Regions from separate parts of the Homo sapiens genome. Here region 2 is linked to region 1. The links come from fine-mapping of genetic effects on gene expression. A gene starts in region 1. The other region holds a variant in brackets. All regions are shown on one strand. Distances are between the middles of the regions. Region 1 holds the start of UBASH3B (ubiquitin associated and SH3 domain containing B). Region 2 overlaps UBASH3B (ubiquitin associated and SH3 domain containing B).

What was found.
Region 2: its variant is fine-mapped to the expression of UBASH3B in whole blood (TOPMed, PIP 0.92).

What each region holds. Positions count from the first base shown.
Region 1 is chr11:122,645,443-122,660,391 of GRCh38, reverse strand. UBASH3B (ubiquitin associated and SH3 domain containing B) reads right to left here and starts at 4,670. Exons shown (of 14, transcript NM_032873.5): 1 at 4,182-4,670. The coding sequence starts at 4,342. RefSeq lists a silencer at 4,011-4,060 and an enhancer at 4,264-4,765.
Region 2 is chr11:122,707,103-122,722,051 of GRCh38, reverse strand. All of the region lies in intron 1 of UBASH3B (ubiquitin associated and SH3 domain containing B), which reads right to left. Among named protein-coding and RNA genes, the nearest start is that of UBASH3B, 59 kb to the right of the region's middle. The variant C/T (reference allele first, on the strand shown) is at 7,524.

The sequences.
Region 1 (14,949 bases):
TGCTAGTGGGCATAGAAAAAAGGAAGCGATTGGCCATTTTGACCTTTGAAAGGTTTCCTTCCTGATGCCTCCCGAACACCTCCTTAACTTGGACTTGCACACGAGCGCACACGCACACACACACCGTGAAATCGCCACTTCTCAGTCCTCCATGAGGCAAATTCTCCTATAGCAGTGTCTAAGTTGGACTGAAGTTCATATAGTGGAATGGAAAAAACCTAGCCCAGCTCCAGGGAGTAATGAGCTAGAGAGAGCACACCCTGAGGTCACCCTGCTTGAGCCAGCCCTGCAGCCCTCTGGTCCTCTTAGCTCTGTCAAGCACTTAACAAGCATGCAGTCATTAATTGCGTTCCCCTCAGAGGGCAACAGCATGGCCCTGAGGGGACTAAGTGACTTTTGCAAGACCACAGCACAGTGCAGCCCAGCACGGGCTGGGTGGGATCCAGCCTTGCTGGCCTCAACCCTCTCTGCCAGCCCACCAAGAGCCTGGCCTGAGTGCCCCTTCTTGGTGCCGCACACCACCAGACCCAGTTACACCCATAGGGGAAACTAGAGCTGTCAGCCCTGGCTGCTGTCACTCTGTCAAAAGGGCCTAGAGCTGTCAGCCCTGGCTAATGTCAGTCTGTCAAAAGGGCCAGGTTTGAGACAACCATCTTACCCCTTCTTAAAGCATCACATCCAAGTCTTCTAGACCCAGGAGACCATCACTGCTCTTTGGGGCTTTGGATTTTCATTATGCTCAGCCCTCCAGGCATAAAGCTCAAGAGAGAAGCTTCTGATGAGCTAAGCCCGATGCCCTTGCTCTTTCTTCTCAACTCTCAAAAATGAAGTTAAATGCCTGTTCTCTGAAGCCTCCGAGGGCCCCTCTTCATACTGGTCTAAGTTACTGGGGGGAAGGCCGACCACATCAGCCTTTCTGGGTTGAAGTAGAGGAGGGAAGCAAGCCTGGGCAAGGAGTCCAACTAGATCAGGTGACCTCCAGGACCTTCACTCCCTTCCAGGCAGAGAATTTAAGAAAAAGAGCAGCAAACCCAACCTCCCTCTCTCCAGGCCTGCTCTTGTTACCTCTTTGGTAAAGAGGGGCAGTGCTAGTAGTAATATAATAATAGCTGTGATAGGCTAAATAATGATCCCCCAAAAGACACCCACATCCTAATCCCTAGAAGCTGTGAATGCCGCCTTATACATTTTTTTTTAAAGGACTTTGCAGATAATGATCTTGAGATGGGGAGATTACTCTGGATTATCCAAGTGGGCCCTAAGTACAACCACATGTATCCTTATAAGAGACATGCCAAGGAAGATTGGACACAGACAGAAAACAAAGACAATTTGACCACAAACGCAGTGATTGGATTGATGCAGCCACAAGCCAAAGAATGCCAGCCCCCAACAGAAGGTAGGAGAGGCAGGGAGTGGATTCCCCTAGAGCCTCCAGAGGGAGCACGGCCCTGCTGATGCCTTGATTTCAGCCCAGCGATACTGATTTTCAACTCCTGGTCTCTACAATTGTGAGAGAATAAATTTCTGCTGTTCTAAGCCACTCAGTTTGTGACAATTTGTTACAGCAGTCACAGGAAGCTAATACAGTAACTAACACTTCACGATTGCTCACTATGTGCCAGGAACTGTTCTAAGCATTTTACCCACATTCAATCATTTCTATCCTGGCCCTACTGGCCCTAGATGGTGTGAGGCCTGGGCTGTGCAGATAGAATACCTGGGTTTGAATCCCAGCTTCACTGCTTACTGTTGTGACCTTGAGCAAGTTATGCAACCCTTCTAAACCTCAGTTGCCCAATTCATAAAATGGGCATGTGGTACCTTCCTCATTGAGTTGCTAGGAGGATAAAATGGGTAATAAAGATATAAGTACTTAGAACAGTATGGAGTAAGTATTCAATACATGCTAGCTATTAGGAGACCTCAGGGGTTAAACAAGCCAAAAATGACCCTTATGCTAATCTGTCAAGACATGTCAAGACCTCCTGGACTCAGAGCAGGAGAAAAGATGTCCCTTTAAAGCTGATTTGAATTTGAATCTCAAATATGACTGAGGAGTTCAGTTAAGTATTTCTTCCCTTAATTAAGCAATTTAGGTTTTTAATGCTGGCCTTATTTCAAAAAAGGCAGTAGCCTGAGACTATGCTAATTCTGCAGCATTCCCCAGCTGACTTCCCCACTCCCACCTCCAGCTTTTTTTTTTTTTTTTTCTTGAGATGAAGTCTCGCTCTGTAACCCAGGCTAGAGTGCAGTGGTGCGATCTTGGCTCACTACAACCTCCACCTACTGGGCTCAAGCGATTCTCTTATCTCAGCCTCCCAAGTAGCTGGGATTACAGGCATGCACCACCCCACCCAGCTAATTTTTGTATTTTTAGTAAAGACAGGGTTTCACCATGTTGGCCAGGCTGGTCTCAAACTTCTGATCTCAAGTGATCCGGCTGCCTCAGCCTCCCAAACTGCTGGGGTTACACCCAGCCCCACCTCCAGTTTTTAAGGAGAGCTGTGCACATTGATCATCCACACCGACGACTTCACCTGAAGCGTCCACACCTGACACACCCCTGCAGAACCCACATTTTCTCCCTGTAATTCTGGTATCAGGAACTGGAGCCCTAGTATTAGGAAGTCGTATTGGGACGTCAGTGGAAGGCAGAAACCATCAGTCCATTTTGCAGCCTTCTAAGGCCACTCCAACGTGTCCCAGCAGCCTGGAGAATAACAAATTCAAGGGTCTACTTTGATTAACAGATTACAACCAAGTTAGTAGAGAATAAACAAGGTTTGCCCAGAGATAAGGGAGGGGAGACATAAAGTTATTGCCTGTAATCCCAGCACTTTGGGAGACCGAGGTGGGTGGATCACCTGAGGTCAGGAGTTCGAGACCAGCCTGGCCAACATGGCAGAACCCCATCTCTTCTAAAAATATAAAAATTAGCCCGGTGTGGTGGCGCATGTCTATGGTCCCAGCTACTCAGGAGGCTAAGGTGGGAGAATCGCTTGAACCTGGGAGGCGGAAGTTACAGAGATTGCGCCACTGCACTCTAGCCTGGCGACACAGCGAGACTCCGTCTCAGAAAAATAAATACATAAATAAAGTTATCACCTGAAAAAAAAATGTGAGAAGGGAAAAAAATAAAAAGGACTTTCATTTACTTGGCCCTCACTGATTAAGTTTGGCCAACTCTCCTGTTCAGGTGCTGTAATTCAAAGATGAAAAGAAGCTGCGCCCAGTCCGGACGCCAGGCCTTGTGTCCCCACCTAAGAAATCTGCACGGCAGGGATTAACCAGGGGAGAAGGGCCTGGCCGCTGGGCCTTGGCTTCCTCTTAGGCAGAGTTCCAGCCCCTGAGACTTGAGCCGACCGGCCTGAGACGACTCCGGCCGCCGCCACCCTATGCTGGCAAACAGGCCTCTCCCCAGCAGGCTCCAGGGGCAGCCACCTGCGCTCTCCCTGCCCTCCCCTACCCCACTCTCCTAGAGGAAGGATGAAGAACAGCTCCCCCTCCTTACTCTCAGGCACCCACAGATTTCTGAGCTGCCGTCACCACTGACGAGAACCCAGGTCCCCTGGAGGGATCGCTTCTCCTTCTGATTCCATCCTCCCCATCAATGAACACGCAGGAACACCCACGCTCCCGCTCCTCCTACTCCAGGGGGAGACCGAACCCGAGAGCGACATCCGGAGCTGGAAGCCGCTGCAACGGGGGCGCCGGCCTCCCTGCCCCGCAGTCTCCCGCCCTTTCCCAGACACCGGAGGATCCCAGACCAGCCCAGTATTCCAGACGGAGAGGGTGCCCGAGTCCTCCGCAGGGCCCCGCCTCCCTAGGCGCTCGGCGCTGGAGACCTAGGGGAGCGCGCGAGAGAAACGCTGAGCTCCACCCGGCTGGGGCGGAGGCTGAGCACTATACCCGGGACTCGAACCCCGCGCCCTCGTCCCCCAGCTTTAGGCATCCCACGGCGAGCCCTGGCCCAACGCCCCCGCGCCGCGTCTTCCCCCGCACCCCCGCCCGGAGCCGAGTCCCGGGTTGCCAGCGCGCCCATCCCGCCCCCAACAGGTCTCGGGCAGCGGGGAGCGCGCTGCCTGTCCCGCAGGCGCTGGGAGGCGAGCCGGAGCGAAGCCGAGGGCCGGCCGCGCGCGCGGGAGGGGTCGCCGAGGGCTGCGAGCCCGGCCACTTACGCGCGGGCTCTGGGGAACCCCATGGAGAGGAGCACGTCCAGCGCCGATCCATGCTTGATGGTGCCGGGGCGCTGTTGGCGGTTCCTCCGGGGGGTGACTTTGCTGTACAGCTCCTCTCTCGCAGCCATGCCGAGCGGACTGGGGTGGCCGTACTGAGCCATGGCTCAGCGGCCAGCCATCGCCAGGGAAGGAGCCCGAGCCGGATGGTTCGGGAAGGAGGAGGGAGTCGGGCTGGGCCAGGGGAGGGGGCTCGGGGACCCAGAGCCAGGCAGGAGGCGGCGGCAGCGGAGGCGGCGCTCCGAGCTTCCCCAGTGTCGGGACTCTGACGCTTCCTGGTGAGGCCACAGGAGCCAGAACGCCGGCAAGCGGCCGCTGCGGGACCAGCCTCAGCCACTCGGGCCCCCGGCTGCCCCCAGCTCTGCGCCTGCAGTAGCCCTGTCTCCTCCGCCCCCTTCCCTCTCCTCGCCTAGCAGTCCGGGAATTTGCAATGAGTAATTTTTGAATGGATCAAAAAGGAAAAGGAGCCTTGTGGGCTGGCCCTGACTTGCCTGTACCCGGGCCCCGCCCCTCTCTTAAAGCGGCCGCGCTGTCCGAGGCTGCTCCGTGCGGGCAAGAGCTGTAGTCGCGCTACTTGGAGACGGAGGATCCCAACCTTATGGGCTGCTTGTGTGCTTCACCTCCCGAGAGTCACCCCCGGCGCCCCAGCCCTCTCCTTGGCTGGCATACCCGCCCAGCTGGGCCTCAAGACAGGAGATCAACCCATCTCAAGTTTCATGTGATTCTAGATGCGGTTATTAATGGAAATTGGGTGAACTGGTGGATGATACTAATGGACCAGAAGGCCAAGCCGTAAGGCCTAGGTAAAAGGTTTTGCTTCTCAAAGATCCTGCAAAACCCAAAGGGTTGTTAGGACCATCGGAAGTTGAGTTCCCAATCAGCCGGCCAAGTGGCTGCACTAAAGACCTACTGCGCTCTACAAGGTTATGGTCAGTGACTGAATAGTGCCTTCCCGGTGGGGCAGAGGGGTTGGGGAGAAGGACCTCAGGTTCTCAGAGGTGGCAGGACCTGGGAGGGGACAAGAAAAGAGGGACAGGGCAGAAAGAAGAGGGAAGGGAAAAAGAAAGGAGGAAGGAGGAGGAGAAGAAGGAAGGGCTAGGAGGGTAGAGGAAGAAGGAACAGAGAAAACATACTTCCTAATTATAAGAGGTGTTCAAAAGGGAACGGGCTTATTTCATTAGGGAGTGGATATCCTGTCAATAAAAGGATTCAAAGACGGACCGAATCACCACTGCACAATAATAAGTGAATTGTATCATAGGCTGGACAAAACTACTCCCACTGCAAAGATGGTGGAAGCCACAACCATATTGATGCCCCATGCCCCACCTGGTGAATTTGGCTGGGGGATGCTAACCCTCTTTCGTTTGGAAACAAAGTCATTGTCTTCAGTCAGGGACAAGGGTCCCACTTGCTATAATGAAAGAGGCAATGAGTACACCCTAACTGATAGTCTTTTTTGGGTAATAATAATAATAAAACCTAACATTTATTGGGCTCTTGTATGTGCCAGTCATTGTGCTAATCGTAATGAATGAACTCACTGAAGTTTTATACTGACCCTAGGAGTGTGTTTAATCATTATCCCAGTTTTACAGATGAGAAAACTCAGCTCAGAGAGGTTGGGGAAGATCATAGAGCTGGTAAGTGCGTAGCTACAGCACTCGTATCCACTGCGGTGCCTTAGACAAGTTACTTCTCTCTACAGCCTAATTTCCTCATTGGTATGGACCGTGGTAACCTAACCTTGCACACACTGGGTTTTCCAGAAATGTCAGTCCGGGCCTGTCCCTGGTTGGAATATGGGGGAGGGATGGTGACCAGCACCCATGGAGTGGCTTTTTGAGGTTGCTTTATAAGGCCTGTGAAGGTTTTACCAGGGGAAATGATACAGTGTAACTCCCTGAGCCCGGAATTGGTTTCCTAAAGAATAGCCAGTGGTGTTTGGAAGCAGGGAGATAAGACAGCTGGAGCTTAAGCAACAATGTGTATTAATTCTGCCTCCTGCTGTACAAAGGATGAGGGAAAATTAATGCTTCCTGGGTAGTAGCTGCTTCCAGAGCAAAGGGGATATCCTGGAGACCTTGCAGAATGCTCTTCCAGGACATGGAGCAAAAAGACAAGACTGGGCTGGCAACACCATACCTAGTATTAGCCTCCTTGGATGTGTTCGGTAAAACATGCTGGATTTTATCCAGTATTCTGAATTGTTTCCAAATGCCTGGGCTGAAAGTCAAATGATCTGGATCTTAGTCAAGAGATAATAATGTATGTGAAAGCGCTTTGTAAACCATAAAGCGCTACATAAATGATAACTCAAATTTATTGAGTACTTACTATATGCTGGTGTTGTTCTTTGCTTCTTACATATGTGACTCAAACAATTCCTTGACAAGACTATGAACTAGGAACTACTTTACAAATGAAGGTGCTGAGCCAGAGGTCAAGTATCTTGTCCAAGGTCACATGGCTAGTAAATGGCAGAGCCAAGATTTGAACTCTTAACATTTGGCCAAACAACTAGTTAACGACCATTGTTATGATGATAAAAGGACACCAGCCTTTAAGATAGTTTTTTGACTCCATCTATGCCCCTTGACATAGAATTGCTGGATCTCTGTTTCTCCAGAAAAATTGAATTAATTGTCTTTCTCCCTGCCTTTAGGCAAACTGTAAGATAAAGGAAATGATGCATATAAAAATAGTTTTAGGTAGACTGGAAAAAGCACTATGAAAAACTAGGCACCTGAGATGCAAACTGTTTTTGTCTGGGACACTTTTACAGAAATCCCAGCTTGGCTTCCTCACTTGTCTTCAGCTCAGTGCAAACCCCTGTTTTATTTAGGACTCCTGCCATTTGTTCTGCACTGGGTTGGGGGGCTGGCAATTCAGATGCATTGTGCTTTAATTGTGTTGACGTTGAAAAGCTAGGAAAAGCTTCATAAATGTCTACACTGTTCTATTACAAAGAGAGAAGAGGGGGGCTGGGTGCGGTGGCTCACCCCTGTAATCCCAGCACTTTGGGAGGCTGAGGTGGGCGAATCACAAGGTCAAGAGATCGAGACCATCCTGGCCAACAAGGTGAAACCCAATCTCTACTAAAAATACAAAAATTAGCTGGGCATGGTGGCATGTGACTGTAGTCCCAGCCACTCCGGAGGCTAAGGCAGGAGAATCGCTTGAACCTGGAAGGCGGAGGTTGCAGTGAGCTGAGATCATGCCATTGCACTCCAGCCTGGTGACAGAGCAAGACTCCATCTCTAAACAAATAAATAAATTGAGAGAAGAGAAATGACTATTCATCTGGCAGTATATCTTACAGTGGCCAAAAGAAGTGAGATGGGAGTAGGGGTCTTGCACAGGGACAGAGCTGACACATCAGCATGAAGTTCCTCCCTCAGAAGGGAAAGCAAGTTGACATGTCTCCGTGTGTGGTCATGTCAGAATCCACTCTGGACCACAAAGCTCTCTTTGTTCATGTGAGCATGTTTAACCCTCCCTCATTGGCCCCTGCCATATTTTTGCTATGGTACATCCTCTCAGATGGCCAGAGGGAGACCCAGGATGGACCCAGTTGGCTGCACTCACAATTTCTGAAGCATGTCCTATATCTTCTCCTTCTCCTTCACTCTGTCCTTGAGGAACGGTCAAGTAATAACAATAAGAACATGCAGTAGGTCTGTAATTCTAGTACTTTGGGAGGCTAAGGCAGGTGGGCAGATTGCTTGAGCTCAGGAGTTTGAGACCAACCTGGGCAAAATGGTGAACCCCATCTTAATTAAAAATATAAAAATTAGCCCAGCATGGTGGTGTGTGCCTGTAGTCCCAGCTGCTTGGAGGGCTGAGGCAGGAGGATTGCTTGAACTTGGGAGGTCGAGGTTGCAGTGAGCCAAGCTGAGATGGCACCATTGCACTCCAGCCTGAGTGACAAAGTGAGACCCTGTTAAAAAAAACAAACAAGGCCTGGCGCGGTGGCTCATGCCTGTAATCCCAGCACTTCGGGAGACCGAGGCGGGTGCATCGCGAGGTCAGGAGTTCAAGACCAACCTGGCCAAGATGGTGAAACCCTGTCTCTACTAAACATACAAACAAATTAGCCAGGTGTGGTGGCAGGTGCTTGTAATCCCAGCTACTCGGGAGGCTGAGACAGAGAATGGCTTGAACCTGGGAGGCAGAGGCTGCAGTGAGCTGAGGTCACGCCCGCCACTGCACTCCATCCTAGGCAACCGAGCGAGACTCCGTCCCAAAACAAAACAAAACAAAAAAACAAACAAATAACAACAACAACAAAAACAGGCAGTAAAGTCTGCCCACTGTTTCAAATCCTAAAGGCTGGGGTGTTGCCTTGCCAAACAAAGGCAGCTTTGGAACTGCTGGGAATGACTTTCACCCCTAGACTTTAAGGGGATCCTTCGTGGTCAGAAGATTTTGAAACCATGTGCTGCCCCTCTCTGGGCCTCAACTTCCTTGCTTGCCAAATGAGGGGATTAGCTTAGCCTGGGGATCGCTAGGATTTTGTCAAGGGACCCCCAGGAACTTTGAGGGACAGGGGTTGGGGTCACCCAACTGAGGATTAAGAGGGTAGTGTGGTATCCTCTTTTCTTTCATTGTAAGTCTATCAGCTTTATATGTTGGGAGTTTTTTTGTTTTTTGTTTTGTTTGTTTGTTTTGAAACGGAGTCTCTCCCTGTCACCCAGGCTGGAGTGTAGTGTCACGATCTCAGCTCATTGCAATCTCTGCCTCCCGGGTTCAAGCAATTCTCCTGCCTCAGCCTCCCAAGTAGCTGGGATTACAAGCATGTGCCATCACGCCCAGCTAATTATTGCATTTTTAGTAGAGACAGGGTTTCACCATGTTGGCCAGGCTGGTCTCGAACTCCCAACCTCAAGTGATCTGCCCGCCTCAGCCTCCCAAAGTGCTGGGATTATAGGCATGAGCCACAGGGCATGGCCAAGATCTAATTTTTTTAAGTGTTTTTTTCTTTCCTTTTTTTTTCTTTTGTTTTGTTTGTTTTGCTTTGTGTTTTTCAGGGTCTTGCTCTGTCACCCAAGCTGGAGTGCAGTGGTCTCAACTTGGGCTCAAACTATCCTCCCACCTCAACCTCTTGAGTAACTGGGACTACAGGTGTGTCCCACCATGCCCAGCTTCTTTTTTTTTTTTTGGAGAGATGAGGTCTTGCTGTGTTGCCCAGGCTGGTCTTGGACTCCTGGACTCAACTGATTCTCCTGCCTCAACCCTTCAAAGTGCTGGGATTATAGGCATGAGCCACCACACCTGGTCCCAAGATCTCATTTTGAATAGACTTGTTTTGTTTTGGGTAGAGACAAGGTCTTGCTATATTGCCCAGGCTGGTCTCTACCTCCTGGCCTCAAGTGATCCTTCTGCCTTCCTCTCAGCCTCCCAAGATGCTGGGATTAAAGGCAGGTGAACCACCTCTCCCAGATGAATAGACGTTTTTAAATGTAAATTTAGGCTAGATGTGGTGACTCATGCCTCTAATCCCATCACTTTGGGAAATCAAAGCAGGAGGATCCCTGGAGCCCAGGAGTTTGAGACCAGCCTGGGCAACATAATGAGACCCTATCTTTATTAAAAATAATAATAATAGACCTGGCACTGGCCAGGCGCAGTGGCTCACACCTGTAATCCCAGAACTTTGGGAGGCTGAGGGGGTCGGATCACCTGAGGTCGCGAGTTCGAGACCAGACTGACCAACATGGAGAAACCCCGGCTCTACTGAAAACACAAAATTAGCCGGGCATGGTGGTGCATGCCTATAATCCCAGTTACTCAGGAGGCTGAGGCAGGTGAATCGCTTGAACCAGGGAGGGAGAGGTTGCAGTGAGGCGAGATCACGGCATTGCACTCCAGCCTGGTCAACAAGAGCAAAACTCCATCACACACACACACACACACACACACACACACACACACACACACACACAAAATAGATCGGACACAGTGGCTCATGCCTGTAATCCCAGCATTTTGGGAGGCTGGGGTGGGCAGATCACCTGAGGTCAGGAGTTTGAGACCAGCCTGGCCAACCTGGTGAAACCCCATCTCTACTAAAATACAAAAATTAGCTGGTCATGGTGGTGCATGCCTGTAGTCCCAGCTACTTGGGAAACTGAGGCAGAAGAAGTGCTTGGACCGGGGAGGTGGAAGTTGCAGTGAGCTGAGATCGCACTATTGCACTCCAGCCTAGGTGACAGAAGGAGACTCCGTCTCAAAAAAATATAATAAATAAATAATTAAAAAAAAAAAAACAGACCAGGGCTCACATCTGTAATCCCAGCACTTTGGGAGGCCAAGGTGGGAGGATCACGACGTCAGGAGATAGAGACCAGCCTGGCCAACATGCTGAAACCTCGTGTCTACTAAAAATACAAAAACTAGCTGGGTTTGGTGGCACATGCCTGTAGTCCCAGCTACTCAGGAGGCTGAGGCAGGAGAATTGCTTGAACCTGGGAGGTGGAGGTTGCAGTGAGCCAAGATTGTGCCACTGCACTCCAGCCTGGGAGACAGAGCAAGACTCTGTCTGAAAACAAACAAACAAACAAACCCCAATCAAACAAAAAAAATCCAGGACAAGTCTTTGTACAAGTATGGCTCTCTGGATTGGAGACCACCAGTGTTGGCCAGCATCTAAGCAAGGAAGGGACAGGTCACCCTCTTTCTCTTTTCTCTCCTCTCTCCTTCCTTCCAAAAGACTCCTAGGCAAAAGAGATGCTTCATCTCTGGAGGAATCTGATTGTACAAGTTTCCTGTGGTAACTGTAACCGATGACCACAAACTGGGTGGCTTACAACAATTAGAAATGTTAATTTCACAATTCTGGAGGCCAGAAGCTCTAAATCAGAATCCCTGGGCTAACCTCAGGTGTCAGCAGGGCTGCGCTCCCTCTGGAAGCTCTGGAAGGGAATGTATTTCTTGCCTCTTCCAGTTTCTGGTGCCTGCTGGAGTTCTGTGGCTTGTCACTACATCCTCCTAGTCTTTTTAAATATAATTTAATATTTTTTTCCGAGACAGATTCTTGCTGTGTTGCCGAGGCCAGAGTGCAGTGATGCGATCTCAGCTCACTGCAACCTCCGCCTCCCAGGTTCAAGCGATTCTCCCGCCTCAGCCTCCCGAGTAGCTGGGATTACAGGCACACGCCACCATGCCTGGCTAATTTTTGTATTTTTAGTAGAGATGGGATTTCTCCATGTTGGCCAGGCTGGTCTCGAACTCCTGACCTCGTGATCTGCCTGCCTCAGCCTTCCCAAGTGCTGGGATTACAGGCGTGAGCCACCGCGCCTGGCCTCCCCCAGTCTTTAAGGCAGCATCTTCAAGTCTTCTTGTTCTGTCTTCACATCACCTCTGTGTGCATCTCTCTGACATCTCTTTTTACCTTTTCTTTATAAGGACAGTTGTGGTCGCAATTAAGGCCACTTAGATAATCTAGAATAGTCTCTCCATCTCAAGATTCTCAATTTCTTTTTCTTTTTTTTTTTTTAGATGGCATTTCGCTCTTGTCACCCATGTTAGAGTGCAATGGTGCAATCTTGGCTCACTGCAACCTCCGCCTCCCGGATTTCAGCAAGTCTCCTGCCTCAGCCTCCCAGGTAGCTGGAATTACAGGCATGCACCACCACGCCCATCTAATTTTTTTTGTATTTTTAGTAGAGACCGGGTTTTGTCATGTTGACCAGGCTGGTCTCGAACTTCTGACCTCAGGTGATCCACCTGCCTCGGCCTCCCAAACTTCTGGGATTACAAGTGTGAGCCACCACAGCTGGCCTAAGATCCTTAATATCATTACATCTCCAAAAACCCTGATTAGGACTTGCTATCTCCAGGTGGCCATTATTTTACCTACCACACTAGTATTCCTTAGAGCAGCTAATTTTGAGGCTGAATGGGCTTCAAGGTTCAGGAGAAGCTTTTTCAGCCTCATGACTTAGGTTAAGGGGAAGAGATAGATTATGGGCAGGGACAAGAAATGAGTAAGAAAATCATACTTGCCCAAGCCTTTTGGGAAAGGCCATACTTCTCAATTTATGCTGTTCCCTCTGCCTGGAATTCTTCCTTCTTCTGGCCTCCTTTAAGAGGCCTTGCCTGACCTCACTTCCCTTCTTTGCCCACATTGCATAGATGGGGCAGAGAGGGTGGGAAGCAGGACCTCAGGTTCTCAGAGCTGGCAGGACCTGGGAGGGGAGGAGAAAAGAGGGACAGGGCAGAAGGAAGAAGAGGAAAGGGAAATAGAAAAATGGAAGGAGGAGGAGAGGAAGGAAGGGCTAGGAGGGTAGAGGGAGAAGGAACAGAGAAAAGACACTTCCTAATTATAAGACATATTCAAAAGGGAATGGGCTGATTTCATGAGGAAGTGGATATCCTGTCCTCTGTGACCCCTTTATCATAGCACCAAGCACAATGAAGGGCATTTCATTTGCTTAAGTGCTTCTCTCCAGGGTAGAATGGGAGCTCCATAAGGCTCCATGCATCTTTCTTTAGCTGTGCCCTCAGTAGGGGCTTAATAAATGTCTATTGAATGGACTTGAATTGCATTTCAGCTGAGAGGCATCTTGATAGCACAAGTACAGTTGCATTTTCTCTTCTCCCTGGTTTTGAGACCAAAGCCAACAAATTTTCTTCCACCCCATAGCCGCACCTTGGCTGGACTGGCTCAGAGCCCTGGTCATAATCTTTCTTCTCCCTCCCTTGATTTTGTTGGTAATTAGACAGACCTTCATCCCCAGCTCATGTCTGGTGCACAGAGTGCTGTGAGTAACCTCAAGGGGATTCTCCTTAAAGGCAGTCCCTGAAGGGTCTGTCTAAGGGGCACACACAGGAAGTGGAGCAAGGAGAACCGGAAGTTTGAGGAGGGGAGCATCAAGGGAAAATGACCCTCCTAGAATGCGCTGGCCTGAACCAGCAAGAGAAATATTTTAGCCAATCTCTAATGTTCCATGGGAAGTGTGGTTTGGAAAACACATCTGTAGATGACAAGAGGCACAGTTCTTCCAGTTTCTTGGCTCTGACTTTTTACATTAGTCATTGCCCTCCCACCAGACTGTGTGTGGGTGCCTCTGGGGCTGAGTGTGCAAGGTGAGCCTGGACGGAGCCTCCTAGGAGCTTCCTTAGGGCCTGCTCCTCTATTAGCAGCTCCCGTTAAGGGAAACTAAGAGAGGGGAAGAAAAGCAAGCCCTAATCCACCTCTTAGCTCAAGGCTTTAATTGAAGAGCTGGGGACTGAGACTGCTCCTGGCCTTCGATTGTCTGTGCCACTTCAGCCCACCTAAAATGGCACACTCTTGTTCCTCTTTGGCAATAGTGTTTACATAGCTCTTTACAATTTCCTAGCACGTTCAGGCATAATACCTTGTTTAATTATTATTCACCTAAGAAAACAAAACAACATGGGAAAGTTGCTTCAATACATTTTTCTTTGGAAGAACAACAACAAAAATTTGAGGCTCAGAAAAATTATGTGACTAACCCATGATAATAGAGTGATGAAAGATGGTAAATCAGTGTTGAAATGCAGATTTTCTGAAATTAAAGCTATACATTAATGTTCTTGTTTCTTTCTTGAGCAGGGTCTAGAAATGTCTTTTTATTTTATTTTATTTTATTTTTTTGAGACAGAGTCTCACTCTGTCGCCCAGGCTGGAGTGCAGTGGTGCGATCTCGGCTCACTGCAAGCTCCGCCTCCTGAGTTCACGCCATTCTCCTGCCTCAGCCTCCCTAGTAGCTGGGACTACAGGCGCCCGCCACCACGCCCGGCTAATTTTTTTATATTTTTAGTAGGGACGGGGTTTCACCATGTTAGCCAGGATGGTCTCAATCTCCTGACCTCGTGATCCACCCGCCTCGGCCTTCCAAAGTGTTGGGATTACAGGCGTGAGCCACCGCTCCCGGCCTAGAAATGTCTTATGACTTGGTGCTCTTAGGAGGAAAGGGCAAGTTCCTTAAAGCAGCGAAGATGAATGTTTCAGGTGAAGCCAAGTGAAGGTTTAACTCACTCCTTCAGCCTCTGAAAGGCATCTAAAATAGAAATTCTCTCAGGATGAAGGTTGAACTGTCCTCTGGAGTCACACTGTATTGCTAGTAACCCTCATCATGTCTCAGGAATGCCTGGGATGAGGAACAGTGACCTGGAAATTTATTGATTGCAAATTGCATTTAAAAATTGCAGTGGACCAGGCATGGTCACTCATGCCTGTAATCCCAGCACTTTGGGAGGCTGAGGTGGCCAGATCGCTTGAGGTCAGAAGTTCGAGACCAGCCTGGCCAACACGGTGAAACCCCGTCTCTATCAAAAATACAAAAATTAGCTGGGCTTGGTGGCGAGGTCCTGTAATCCCAGCTACTTGGGAGGCTGAGGCAGGAGAATTGCTTGAACCCGGGAGACAGAGGTTACAGTGAGCCAAGATTGCACCACTGCACTCCAGCCTGGGTGACAGAGCGAAACCTTGTATCAAAAAAAAAAAAAAATATATATATATATATATATACACACACACACACACACTCACACACACACACACACACACACTCACACATATATATATAGGCCTGGTGCAGTGGCTCACACCTGTAATCCCAGCACTTTGGGAGGTCAAGGCTGGTGGATCACTTGAGGTCAGGAATTCGAGACCAACCTGTCCAACATGGTGAAACCCTGTCTCTACTAAAAAGATGAAAAATTAGCCGGGCATGGTGGCGTG
Region 2 (14,949 bases), 62 kb before region 1:
ATGTGATGTCTTTATTCTTCAAAAGTATGATGACTAATGCATTATACCACAGATATGAACATTCTCCCAAGAATCAAAAAGTCTGTGTAACTGGTTCATCCAATAAACAGTGTCTTCTATGAATGTCATTCTTTGACTCCTTAAGAAAAAGAAGCCTCTCTCTGCTAAGAGGCATCCCCAAAGAACAGAGTAGCATGTTTCTAAATTTCACCCAATAGCAGTGAAATGCATTAACGGATTTGCCAATGAGCTACTAAGCCTAAGAAGTTATGTTAGGAGACCTGGAAAAGAAGGGTTAAAAGTGAGCAACCTCACTAGGGTAAAAAGGAAAGATCCTGGAAGGCTTTTGGAAACCACTAAGTAACAAATGTAGCTCCCACCTCCCACCCACGCACCACTGGAAATAACTTTAAATAATGCATCTGAGAATGTCTGCAGAACAGGCAGTCTGGATTAAGGACTTTTAAAGGGATGGTGTTTGAACAAGGATTCTTTCAGGGAAACCATCTTGAGAATTACTGAACTCTCAGGCAAGCTCACTCTGACAAATATCCTTAAGCAAGCTTTGAGCTAGAGCTGAAATCCTGGTGTGGTAAATATCATCATACGGGAAAGCAATTTATAGCAAAAAAGATTTAGTGGTCCTCCCAGCCACCACATTCCCACTCCCACCCCCCCGTAGTGCTGTGGAAGATTTGCTTACTCTAAGTGAACAGAATTCCATAAAGAGCTTGGCTGGTCAGTCAGCATCTGTTGTAGAAACTGACCTAGAGTCATTCATTCTTTTTTTTTTTTTTTTTTTTTTTTGAGACACAGTCTTGCTCTGTTGCCCAGACTGGAGTGCAGTGCCGCGATCTTGGCTCACTGCAAACCTCCACCACCGGGTTCAAGCGATTCTCCTGACTCAGCCTCCAGAGTAGCTGGGACTACAGGCACACGCCACCACGCCTGGCTAATTTTTTGTATTTTTGGTAGAGACGGGGTTTCACCGTGTGAGCCGGGATGGTCTCCATCTCCTGACCTTGTGATCTGCCCACCTCGGCCTCCCAAAGTGCTGGGATTACAGGCGTGAGCCACCGCGCCTGGCCGAGTCATTCATTCTTTTAACATCTACTATGTGTCAGACATTTTTCTAGCCTTGGGGATATAGCAGAGAAAAAAAAAATACAAAGATTTTTGACCTCATGCAGTTTATATTCTAGGGGAGAGGACAGTTATAGTAAGCGTTTTGGAAAAAATAAGGCAGGGAAGGGTGGGAAGGGATTCCTATTTTGCATGGAAAGATTAGATAAAGGTAATGAATGAGTCAGGGAGGGAGAGCTCTGTGGATAGCTGTGTGAAGAGCCTTCCTGGAAGAGCAAGCACAAAGGCCCCAGGCAATGGCGTGTGTAGTGTATTCAAGGAACAAAGAATAGACCATGTGGCTTCAGCTGAATGGGCAAGGAGGTACATGCTAGGAAACAGATTCAGAGAGGTAGCAAGGGAACACCCTAGAGACAGGAAGGCTTTAGATTTAACTTTGTAACACAGAGAACGTTGGGGCATTTTGAGCAGTGGAGTGATTCCATCTGCCTTACACTTTGAAAGGATCTCCAACTATTCTGATGAGAAGAGACTACAAGAAAGCAAAAGCCAAAACAGGGAGACCAGTTTGGAGGCAATTGCAATAATACAAGCAAGAGAGAATGCCAGGGATTTGGATCTGTGGAAGCGGCGAAGCTGACAGATTCACTGATGGACTGGATGGAAAAAGTGAGGCGCTAAGGGTGACTCCAAGGCATTAGAATGAACATCTGGAAGAAAGAGTTATCCTGCTTGGAGATGACAAGACTGTGGGAGGACCCATGTTTGAGATGCCTATTTGACATCCATAGGAGATGCTGAGTACGGAGTCTGGAAAATGGGAGAGAGGACTGGGTGGGGGATGTAAGTGCAGGAGTTGTCAGCATATGGATAGTACATAAAGCCAGGAGTTTGGAGACTACTATGGGGGTGAGTTTAGACAAAGGAGAGAAGGGGTCCATGGTTTTCAGCTGAGGGCTCTCCAATATTTACAGGTGAGGAGATGAGGAAGCCAGCCAAGGAGTTGGAGCAGAAGCAGGCACTGCAGTAGGAGGACTAAGAGAGAAGAAACTCCTAGAAGCCAAGGGTCTTTAAGGAAGCATCGAGAGAGGACTGATCGCCTGCATCCAATGCTGCTGATGGAGGATGGAATTGCTCACAATATATGGCACTACTGTGGCCATTAGTGACCTTGATGACAGCAGCTTTGGGGGGCAGTGTGACAGAAGCCTGATTGAAATAAGTTTAAGAGAAAAGAGGAGGATAGGAAGTGGAAACAGCCAGTAGAGACAACTTGTTTGGGAAGTGTTACTGTTCAAGAATCTGATTTAACACTTTAGGTTTTGCAAGAAGAGAAACAGATGAAATGATCTTTCCAGCTACTAAGGCTGATTATTACTACCTTTGCTGGGAGGCTCCTTGACCTATGTGATGGGATACATAGATGCCTGGTTCTGATGAACTCATGATGTGAACCACAGGTTTTTCCCTCTCAGAGACTTATTTTAAGGAGGACGAAGGGGAAAAGACAAGGAGAGAGTAATGAAAGAAAGGGACAAGAAAAATGGTAAGAAAGACTTTTAAAGAGTTTCAAGCCATGTTAAGTTTCCTAAACCATTTCTTTTCCATTGCAAACATCACTAACATAACTCCCAAATTTCCTGGTTAAATTTAGCACAGATGTAAAATTTTGAGCACTGGTGGACATGGGTATCTAAACCAATCATCTGATGAGGAAATTGAAGCTTAGAGAAGGGAATTGACTTCCGGGCACTCCCAATTATTAGCCGCGTGGTCTTAGACAAGTTACTTTTAACCTCAGCGTGTTAGTTAATCCATCTGTAAATTGGCAGTGTAAGAATACCCATCACCAATCTAACGTAATCATGCTTAGATTGTTCGAACAGCAGCTATCACATGGTAATACTCAGTAAGTGTTTTTTATTTATTTTTGAGAGACGGTCTCAATCTGTCGCCCAGGCTGGAGTGCAGTGGATCAATCATGGCTCACTGCAGCCCCAGCCTCCTGAGCTCTGGTGGTCCTCCTGCCTCAACCTCCCAGGTTTCTGGGACTACAGGCATGTAGCAAAATGCCCAGCTAATTTTTTGTATTTTTAGGTGAGACGGTGTTTCACCATGTTGCCCAGGCTGGGTTATTCTTTATTTCTGTTGCCCAAGTCACGTGGAGGAATTGTGTCAGATTGGAGTAAGAAGAGGATGATTCTACCTTATCCCTCCCGCCACAAAACACACACATGCGCTATGAGTTAGCTTTTCATTTCTGACCCTCTAATATCCCTTTTTTGGGGCTCCAATCAAAAAGACTTTTCTTTATTCCATACTATGAATATAAAAAGTACTATAATTGAGGACCTGCTGGGTGCAGTGTTAATTTGCTTTTACATATGTCATCATACTTAATCCTCACACAATCCCTACTATCCCATTTCCCCCCTAAATATCCCATTTGATGGATCAAGAAGCCAGTGTTCAAAGCTTCAATAACTTGCCCAAGGTCACACGGCTGGAGATGGCAGATTCAAACCTGGAGTCTGAGACTCCACATCCTTTCACAAGTCTGCCCAATAATATAACACTAGTACCCAATGCCATGCACTGACTTAGTGACTTGCAAGGAATCTGAGGCGCCAGGGCTCTATGTTAAGTAGTTTTAGAACAAGAAATGCTTCATCCGAAATGTATTTTAAACATTAGACTAGGTAGGTATGCATCCACTTTCTTGGACGTGTTTAAAACTTGGGTGAGGCCGGGCATGGTGGCTCACACCTATAATCCCAGCGCTTTGGGAGGCCAAGGCGGGAGGATCACTTGAGGTTAGGAGCTCGAGGCCTGCCTGGCCAACATGGTGAAACCCCGTCTCTACTACTAAAAATACAAAAATTAGCCAGACTTGGTAGTGGGTGCCTGTAATCCCAGCTACTTGGGAGACTAAGGCAGGAAAATTTCTTGAACCCAGGAGGCGAAGGTTACGGTGAGCCAAGATGGCGCCACTGCACTCCAGTCTGGGTGACAGAGTGAGACTGGTGACAGAGTGAGACTTGTCCGAAAAAAAAAAAAAGAAAGAAAGAAACTTGGGTGAGAAATCCACGTACAGTTGAATTTATTCTCACCAGGCAAGGACTGGCCTAGTGTCATGGGGGGTGGGGGACAGTAGGGGAAGGGAACAGGAAGTCATTTGCTGGTGGTTGACCGGGCCCCCTGTGACTTCTCAGAGTTATAGAACTGCCACCAACAGTCACAGCAGTTCCTGGAGAACAACGAGAAACTTGGGGTCAGCCAGAAGGCACCTGTGGTGATATCACGAGGTACAGCGGTGGAAAATACACACTTTCTAAGGGGCTGTTTCCCCACTTTGCTGAACACAGGGTACCAGAGAAACTAATTATAGCCACTGAGGGCAATTGACATTTACAAGCATCCGTGCTGTGTGCAGTGCTTCTCCCTCTACTGATCTGTGGCCAGAGCCACGCCTAATGCATGTGGTGGAGGCCACAGGATCCAGGCAGCCTGGGTGTGACAAGGACATCCTCCTCCCTACCCCTTCTTACTGCCAGGAAATCTCTCACACTACTGCAGGTCTGCTATATTCTGATGTGATTATCTCCTCGGACTGTGGGGTAGCATCACTTCCTCAGGGGCAGAGAGGGAACCTGGCCCTTCCGCTATCGGTTAGTCCAGGAAGTGGTGGTTCTTAGGACAGGCAATGAGGATTTGGAAGGAAGGCCTTAGGTGGGAGAAGAAGAGAGAATCTCCATGTCTCTGGGCCTTGCTTTCTTATGCTAGTACTCCCAGGAGTCTGGCAAAACTTGAGGACTTTTCTGGGGGCGAGAGGACAGGGATCTCTGTCATACAGTGGTAGCTTTGAGGGAACCCCCTGAGAATGGGCTGGTCCTAAGCATAGTCCTGATCCTGAGCTGCTAGTAAAGTCTTGTTCAGTTTGTTACACCTTGGCCTCGGCTGTGCTATGGGAAATTAAGGCATCAATCTGTGTGACTACTTAGACAGGACGGGAGAAGGGGAGATGAGGCTATAATCATCCTGATTCCATCTAACATCTCCAAATTGTGAGGCTAGAAGAGCCATGACCGACAGCTTCTACCGAGAGAAAAGGCAAGGCTTTTGTCTTTCTCTTCCTTCCAGCAAAGCTTTCTGGGGCTCCCCTCTTTAGCCTGGTCTGCTGTTCAAGATTCAGAAAACTGAACTGGACTCCTTAGACAGGAATTTTACAGAACTGGGTGACATTGTGGTTGCATTACCTGCCTTCAGGTGGAGAAAGGACATGTCTGCAACCCAAACCTCCTTACAGAGCGGGGCAGACTGAAAGCTCTGAGCAAGGTCTCCCACAGGCAACCTTGCCTCAGGAGGTGAAAGGACATCCTGATGTCCCAAGTCTCTGGGTGGACAGCGATTCCCCATGCAAGAGGCCACACAAGGGATATTAGAGGGGCAGAGATGAAAAGCTAACTCACGGCATATGTGTGTGTTTTGTGGAGGGAGGATAAGGTAGAATCATCCTCTTCTTACTACAATCTGACACAATTCCTCCATGTGACTTGGGCAATAGAAATAAAAAATAACCCAGCCTGGGCAACATGGCAAAACACCGTCTCTACTAAAAATACAAAAAAATTAGCTGGGCATTGTGCTACATGCCTGTAGTCCCAGCAAGCTGGGAGGTTGAGGCAGAAGGACCACATGAGCTCAGGAGGCTGGGGCCGCAGTGAGTCATGGATTGAGCCACTGCACTCCAGTCTGGGCAACAGAGTGAGACCCTGTCTCAGAGCTCTCCTCTGCAGCTGAGATCCCCCTTCCTCTCGCAGTTCTCACCAGCCCCAGCTTGCTGCTACTACCGTGCAGTTTTTCTGCCCCCACAGAGGGACACTGCATCACGATCAGGAAATTCCACCTCCTCGTCCTCTCTCCACAGTCCCTGCTGCCTCTAATCCAATACTGGAAAGAGAAAGCTGAAACAGGGACAAAGAAAGGAAGCACTTGAATCTCCTCTGTTTCTGGAGCATTTTCAAATGACAGGAAAATGTAATTTTGACTACAATTCAAGGGGTTGAACACCATGACCCTCTAGTCCTTGGCGGAGGAGTGCTGCCTCTGTCAGCAAATAGTGGCAAAGCCAGGGGACCACGGTGGAGGCTGGAGACCTCTCTCTTTGTGGTTACAGAACCTGGCAATGGCTGGGAAGCCATATGTTGTGTTCTGAGACTCAAGCATAAACTTCTGCTGGATGTTTGGATTTTGGTTTTTTAATTATCCCCTGTTTTGAGAGAGACAAAAGGGGTGTGTGTCTATGTGTGCTTTGAAGGAAGTAGGGGAACAGATGGGTGGAGAGAATAGAAAGAGGAGAGGAGCCGTCATTACTGGGCTTTCGGATCCGTGTTTCTCCAGCAGTTTCTGCTGTGTCTCTTTGGTGACACATTGGGTAAATGGCCCTAAAAGATGATAGCTATGCCAAAGCTACAACAGCCTCAGAGGTTCTATTGATTCAGAAGCTTTCTGGATTGTCTCTGCCGTAGCATATGCACCACCTCATTCTTAACAGACACTGACAGCAGCGCTACAACTGTTTTGAAGGAGGCAACTTTTGATGGCAGCAATGCAAGGTCTGTCCAGACCATGAAGTCCCACCTCAACCGCCAATCAATAATAAGACATGACATCTTAAGTGTTATTTAAATGCTAAGCACTGTGTCAGCATTTAACATTTATCTCGGCTGGGCGCAGTGGCTCATGCCTGTAATCCCAGCACTTTGGGAGGCCGAGGCGGGCGGATCACGAGGTCAGGAGATCGAGACCATCCTGGCTAACACGGTGAAACCCCGTCTCTACTAAAAATACAAAAAATTAGCCGGGTGTGGTAGTGGGCGCCTGTAGTCCCAGCTACGCGGGAGGCTGAGGCAGGAGAATGGCGTGAACCCGGGAGGCGGAGCTTGCAGTGAGCCGAGATCACGCCACTGCACTCCAGCCCGGGCGACAGAGCGAGACTCCATCTCAAAAAACAACAAGAACAACAACAAAAAATTTATTTCATTTAGTCTTCAGAACAACTCTATGACATGGGTACTAAAATTGCACTCACTTTACAGATGAGAGAAGGAGAAGGTAAATACTTTGTACAAGGTTATGCAGATAATGAGTGCATCCCGGGCTCAGACACAGGCTTGCCAGACACCTCTGTTCTTCAACACCATCCTACCCTGCCTTCCCATCATCAGCTGACATTGCTTCACTCTGTGCGAAGATGGAAAGAGGAAGCACATTTCAGGCTTAATTCTCACCATCAGTATCTTCAGTTTTACTGATGAGGAAACTGAGGGTCACAAGTTGTGAAGCAATCTGTCCAAAGTCACACGACCGTGAAGCAGCAGAACCAGGAGTCAGAGCCAGGACTGAGTTCAATCCTTCACTCTCTCCATTTTACCCCGCTG[C/T]CTCTGGGCCAAATACCTGGAAAAAGAGGTCTGCCTCTCACTTGCTTCAGGTTTTAAAGTAAAAGCAGAAGAGGAAGTTCAGAAGGTGTTCTTCTTCAGTGTCCCCTAAATATGAGATTTTGAGAAAGGCTTGACCCTAAGGGCCAATAGGTAGCAATTTCAGGAAGGCCGATTTAGAGAGAATTGAATGGCCTTGTAAGGTAGTGAGCTCCCCAAGAATGGAGGAGTTCAAGCGCAGTCTTGATGACTGTGGCAACACTGTAGACAGCAATTGTTGTTTTGGCTGTCCAGTATCTAAGCACTCTTCTTATTTAGGGGAATCCCAATATGAGCGAAGGGGGAGCCCCACTAAAGAAACTGATGGGGCAGATGTTCTGTCTTTCAGCTTCCTGACAGATGATGCCCAGCATATGACTTAGACGAAGGCAATCAACTACTCCCATTAAAGACTTTGGAACCTAAGGTGACCAAGAGTGGAGGGGTCACGGCAAGTGTCTGCAGCAGTGTCCTTGACTCCTGCCTGTTTCCAGAGTCTGATTATCCATGCCCCTGATAGTTCTGTGAGCCACCTAAACTCGTTTCCTGCTTAAGTTATCCAGAGGTGGTTTCTAACCTGGATATAAACATCTGATGGAAGGCTGCACTGGATGAGGTCACAAAGCCAGCTGCATATCTGAGTTACTGGTGGAGTTCAGTAAAAATACAGATTCCCATGTTCCCCAAGACCTACTGGATCAGAATTTTCAGGAATAACCCTGAACATTCATTTTTTTTTTTTTTTTTGAGATGGAGTCTCGCTTTGTCGCCCAGGCTGGAGATGACTGACATGTGGCCAGATTTGGGAGTGGCTGAGATAAATAAACTTTAGGGCCCCCAAAATAAAATACTATGATTTTCAAAAAAACTCTTACCAAGAATTTGGCCATGGCTCTCAGAAAAATGCAACATGCCTATAGTTTCTTTATAATTGCTAACATAAAGCTTATCTTTTTGGACAAATCACACACACTCCTAAGAGGCTAAAGCTGTAATATATCTTCTATTTCCATAGGATATTCCTTCCAAGGCCTTTTGCATCTACAGATCTATTATCACAGTTGATGTAACTTCCCACCTTCCTCAGGTGGGTGAGATCCATGATTTCACATGCATTCGTCTGATGCCGCAGAGTCAGCTGACCACATGGCTTTTTACTTCCCAAACCAAAGCCTCTCTTCGTCGTGTGGCTATTCTTGGGATCTACAGTGCACCTCCTGTGTGCCCTAAAGAGAGCTTCATCCCATGTGAGCCTCAACTCCTCTGTGTGAAAATGAGGAACACTGGGCCGGGTGCAGTGGCTCACGCCTGTAATCCCAGTACTTTGGGAGGCCGAAGTGGGCGGATCACAAGGTCAGGAGATCAAGACCATCCTGGCTAACATGGTGAAACCCCGTCTCTACTAAAAATACAAAAAATTAGCTGGGCGTGGTGGCGGGTGCCTGTAGTCCCAGCTACTCGGGAGGCTGAGGCAGGAGAATGGCGTGAACCCAGGAGGCGGAGCTTGCAGTGAGCCGAGATCGCACCACTGCACTCCAGCCTGGGCGACAGAGCGAGATCCATCTCAAAAAAAAAAAAAAAAAAAAAAAAAAAAAACCACCCAGAGAAGAAAGATGAATGTCCAGTCAGCTTCCTGGGGCTCAGCTCAGAGATGTACATCCCTGTACCACTATTCCTCATTCATCCAGGAGCAAAATCCCCTCTTCTCCTGCAAATGTAACTGCTGTTAAGAAGCTGCACTTGGTAGTGGAGTTCTATATACTTCAGGGCGTTTGCTTTTGTTTGTGCAACACCACAGGTAGGAAGGTACCTGTGAAACCCATGGAGTTCTCCTCTTGCCTCCCAGCTAGTCAGGGCTGTTGGGTACTTTCTGGGGTAGAAATTCCCTAGCTTCCCTTGGTGACCCTCCTGGTGCTCAACAGGATGCAGAATGTGAGGGAAAAAGAGCGAGCACCAACAGGACCCTGGTTTATGCCTATTACTCAGGGCCAGGATGGAAGCAAGCATGAGAGCCCCTGGGTCCATTTGGGCTGCTGAGAAAGCCCCTCTCGTGTGACGTGCGTCCCCCACCAAGGAAGCATCCAAGTCCACCCTGGGTGTGTATCTACCCAAGCAGCTCCTTAGGAAAGTCAGCAGACCTCCCACCTCCTCATGCTGGAGCTTCATGTCAGCTACCGCCCTCCAGAGGACTTTGAGGACAATATGGCCATCTGGTTTCTGTACAATCTGCATCCGTATAGTGCTCATAAACTTATCTTCCAGCTCGTTCAAAATGTACACAGCTGAATTCTACTGCTGACTTTGGCACTTGCTCCTGGTATCTGAGAAGAACAGATTCAATTAAAAAGGAAATAACAGATGCTGCAAATCACTCCCTCATTTTCAGAGAAGTTTTTTCCCCCTAGTGCCCTGAATTACTTGATGATGAACAGCAATGCAGTAAAAAAAAAAAAAAAAATGCAGCTGGCATGACAACTTCCAACTTGGCTTCAAACCAAGGGGAAGCTGCGGGCTGTCCTTTCTAGATGGTCTTTATGCCCGGCACATTCCTTTCTTTGGTATGGGTATTATTGTGTAGAGAACTTGGCTGGAAGTAAAGGGATAGAAAAAAATGAACCCTGGGGTTCTTTTAGCCTTAAGATTCTTTGCTATTACTCACTCTTCCTCACAGTATCTTTGTGAGGGGTGTATGTAGTCAGTGGGACATTGAAGGCAGGATTAGTATTCCCATTTTAGAGATGGAAATGCAAAGGCCCAAGGACAGCAGGTTATTTGCAAACTCCAGTAAAGGAAATTGGTTCTATCAGAAAACCTTGATTCTTTTTCCACATGCACCTGTGCCCGTTACACAGCATGAGGTAGTAATGAGGCCAAGGCCAGGCTGAAGTGCCCGGGGGCATGCTCAGGAGACTTAGAGGCATACACGCACTCCCGGCACATGTCCTTGCAAGGCACTTAAAGGCTGCCAGTGCCCGGCCTTCCTCGGCTCCGTTCAGGCCTGCTTATCACATCCTGCCCTGTGCTCAGCTTCACTCTGCCTGAGTCTTGTGAGCCTCCCTTGGACTCAGGGGTGACCATCTTGTTATTGATGACTTGTGATGGGACCCACGTGGCTGGAGAGTGACGAAAGAAAAATGGAAGGAAAGAGATGCATTTGGAATAGGGTCTGATTACCTCTCCTCTCTTTCCCTAAGCACTAAAATGATTACGAATTCCAAGGTTTGGACAGGAGATGGGGGACCCCCAAAAATGTCTGCTACAGAGATTTTGGGAGCCTGGGACTGCAAGATTAGGAGCTCCCTTGCCAGAGTGTATAAAGAGGAAGGGTGGGGGCTCTCTTCTGGAGAATTAACTGAGGAGATTCTGCCTGGACACTGAAGCACAGAGTCAGGAGAGCCCAGGCTTCCTTCCATGAATCTCGTTTCCAACAGTCATCAGAGAACAGGGCTCCCACACTTCCTAACCCATTGACTTTGCTGGGACCTTATTTTCTGAAACAAGAGTCAAGACCAATGTTTCCTCTATGGCCTGTCAATGAAAAGGGATGATTTGAAAATTATGATTATCCCTGAAAATCCAGGGTATATGCCTTTATGTTCCCATGGCTGCTCTACCATCTCCACCCCCACCACCCTGCCCCCAGGACAAAGCCTACCCACCTGGGGTTCCTCTCCTTATGGAATGAGAGTCAAAAGCTCTAGGGAAGTGGTATGCGGCATGGGCTTTCTGTGTTCCCATTGCCTACCAATTCTACATGCCCCGTCCCCCTCCCCAATTCTCCCCAGCAGGCCCTTATGGGGCAGCTTCCACCCCCTATACCACTTCTACTTTGGTGCCTTTATTTGTCCATTTTTGGCTATATCGGCATTAGCTATGATTTAGCAAGATCACACGCTTCTGGAGGCAGAGATTGAGGATACCACGACCAGATGGATGGATGAACGTTTGACTTCTGGCTCTGCCACTTTTCAGGTGGGGGAGATCATGTCTGGTCCTTAATGTCCCTGAGCCTTCTTTTCAAGAAATGGGATGAGACTGGACCTGCCTTGCAGGGTGGTTGTGATGACACAGAGATAATGTGTGCAGAAGGCAGCACAATGCCTGGCTTGTAATAAGCGTGCACAACAATGGTGGCCCCACCATCTCTCCAACCACCAGCCCGCTCCGGGACTTGCTCTTTCGCCTCCTCCTAAATGCCTTTCCTAAACTGCATTTACCTCTGTCTTCTAACTGTTGGCCTTATCTTTCTTCTGCTCTGAGAACCTAGAAGCTAGACCATGTTGTTTATTATGATTATCTTAAATCCATGATTCAGAATGCTTTTTTTTTTTTTTTTTTTGAGACAGTCTCACTCTGTCGCCCAGGCTGGAGTGCAGTGGTATGACCTCGGCTCACTGCAGCCTCTGCCTCCTGGGTTCAAGCAATTCTCCTGCCTCAGCCTCCCAAGTAGCTAGGATTATAGGTGCCCGCCACCATGCCTGGCTAATTTTTGTAATTTTAGTGGAGACGGGCTTTCACCATGTTGGCCAGGCGGTCTCGAACTCCTGGCCTCAAGTGATCTGCCTGCCTCAGCCTCCCAAAGTGCTGGGATTACAGGCGCGACCCACAGCCCCTGGCCTCGAGAATGCTCTTTTGATCTAGGCAAATGAATGAACTAACAAATGAACAAACACATAAACCAAAAACAGGTTAGAGCTCTAGTTTTTGAGACCGTGTGATAATCTCTTCCAGAACTCTAGGAGAAAAGGCTAGGTGGGGACTCAAATTCCTCCCTTGCAAAAGCCTTAGATTAGATAATTCCACCCAGGATGTCAGGAATGCTTGATGACTTGGAGCATTTCTGCTGATTGTAGGCCTATACCCAGAAAGAGTTAACCAGCAGCTGCTGGGTTTATTTTCATTCTCTTTAATAAGGGAATCAAAGCAGCAGGACACAAACACACTGAATCTCTAATCACTCCAACACCCACACATGTTCCCCATCCCCTTCTGATTTAGTAAAGTCAAAGCTCGCTTACCACGCAATACATTTGACTGGCTTCTACAGCGGCTCACTTGTAAGTGATGAAATCTCAGCTTTTCCCCCAAACCTTTATTCCTGAAAGTCCATCATTACCAAATTCTTCCCCTGGAATAGATATTGGTATTGCCCTCTTGCTGCAGCCTCTTTTACAACGTAGACATGAAGGTGGGGCTGGGGATGGGAAAGTGAAGACTTCTAAGTCTCCAATAACATAGTTTGTTTTGAGACAGGGTCTCGCCTTGCTCTGTCACCCAGGATGGAGTGCAGTCGTGTGATCATGGCTCACTGCAGCCTTGCCAGGCTCAAGTGATTCACCCATTTCAGCCTCCTGAGGAGCTGGGACCACAGGCATGTGCCACCACACCCAGCTAATTTTTGTAGTTTTTGTAGAGACAGTGTTTCACCATGTTGCCCAGGCTGGTCTCGAACTCCTGGGCTCAAGCCATCTGCCAGCCTCAGCCTCCCAAAGTGCTAGGGTTACAGGCATGCACCACCGTACCTGACCATGAATGAGTTTATCATGTTTAAGTTGGCTGGGTTCTGCATTAAGGGAAGGTGATGGGAAATGACCATGTACTGAACACTGGCTAGATACATTATATACATGTTCTCATTTCTCAGTAACTGTGACAGAAGGATTATTATATGCTTTCGGCTGGTGAGAAAAATTGAAACCTAAAATGGGAACTTGCCCCATATTACATGGCTCCTGGAAGACAGAGCCAAGACTCATGCCAACATCATACTTAGAGATGCCTGACTCCAAAACCTGCGTGGATCTTTTTGAGGGATGCAAGTGAATGGTGCTGTCTATTTGGCAATAAAACTTTTTGGAAGAATGAATGAATAAATAGGTTACCAAAAGCCAAACAAGAAGGCCGGGCACAGTGACTCACACCTGTAATCCCAGCACTTTGGGAGGCCAAGGTGGGCGGATCACTTGAGGTCAGGAGTTCAAGACCAGCCTGGCCAACATGGTGAAACCCTGTCTCTACTAATAATACAAAAAAATTAGCTGGGTGTGGTGGTACATGCCTGTAATCCCAGCTACTCGGGAGGCTGAGGCAGGAGAATTGCTTGAACCTGGGAGGCGGAGGTTGCAGTGAGCCGAGATTGTGCCACTGCACTCCAGCCTGGGTGACAAGAGTGAAACTCCATCTCAAAAAAAAAAAAAAAAAGCCAAGCAAAGTTCAAAATGACTTAACAAAACTCCTTGGAGAATAGTCAGCATCTCACCTCTAAGGAGCAACCTCTCCTAGCCTCTCTTCTCTAGCATGTTGAAGATGGTGGTGAGAACCTGCTCTTAATTCCTTTCCTTTGGACACTGAGTCTCCAAAGAGTAAGTGGCTTGGAACTAAAGCCCAGTTTTCAGATTTCTGGCTCAGTGTGTTTCCTAGTATTATGATGTCAGGAGAAGAGATAGCCAAAGAAGAACTCTATCGTAGTATTCAGGCATCATAAATTATATATTAGAGGCCAGGTGCAGTGGGTTCATGCCTGTAATCCCGGCACTTTGGGAGGCCAAGGCAGATGGATCGCCTGAGGTCAGGAGTTCGAGACCAGCCTGGCCAATATGGTGAAACCCCATCTCTGCCAAAAATACAAAAATTAGCTGGGTGTGGTGGCGCACACCTGTAATCCCAGCTACTCGGCTGTGGCAGAAGAATCGCTTGAACACAGGAGGCGGAGGTTGCAGTGAGCCAAGACTGCGCAACTGCACTCCAGCCTGGGTAACAGAGCGAGACTCCATCTCAAAAAAAATAAATAAATAAAAATAAAAATTATATATTAGATTAGCTGTTTATTGCTACTGGAAGAGACAAATGAGACAATAGCCTTTAACTGCCACCTGAGATTTAGGTTGCTTATTCATTCAGCAAATATATATTTACCAGGCATTGTGGTTAGTAATGACAAAAAATAAAAAATAAAAAGATAAGCTGTCAGAAACCTCACAACTTAGTGAGAAAGAAGGCTCATTCAAATAATTGTCTTTTATCATGGCAAGTGCTAAGCAAAGTACAAACAAGGTGCTTGGGCAGCCCAGAGGAGGAAGAGGCAAATTTGTTCTCTTGCAAGGAGTAGAAGAGGCACCACGCAGAGAAGGCACACGTTAGGAAAAGGTTACCACTCCCCGTCAGAAGCAAGAGGAAAATAGTGGAAAAGCCTGCAGAGTAGGGTTGTAGCCTGTTCTTCTGGGACAGGAGAGTGTCATTGCCTAATGGCTTCCAAGAAAGTAAGTAGGTCAGCTAGTCCCAGATATTTGGATTTTATGGACCAATATCCTTTGAAAAACAGGGGTCTATGGGGTAGGCGGGGGTGGATTGTGTGGATTTAATGTTTAATTTTCTCCAGCAAAAATCTGCA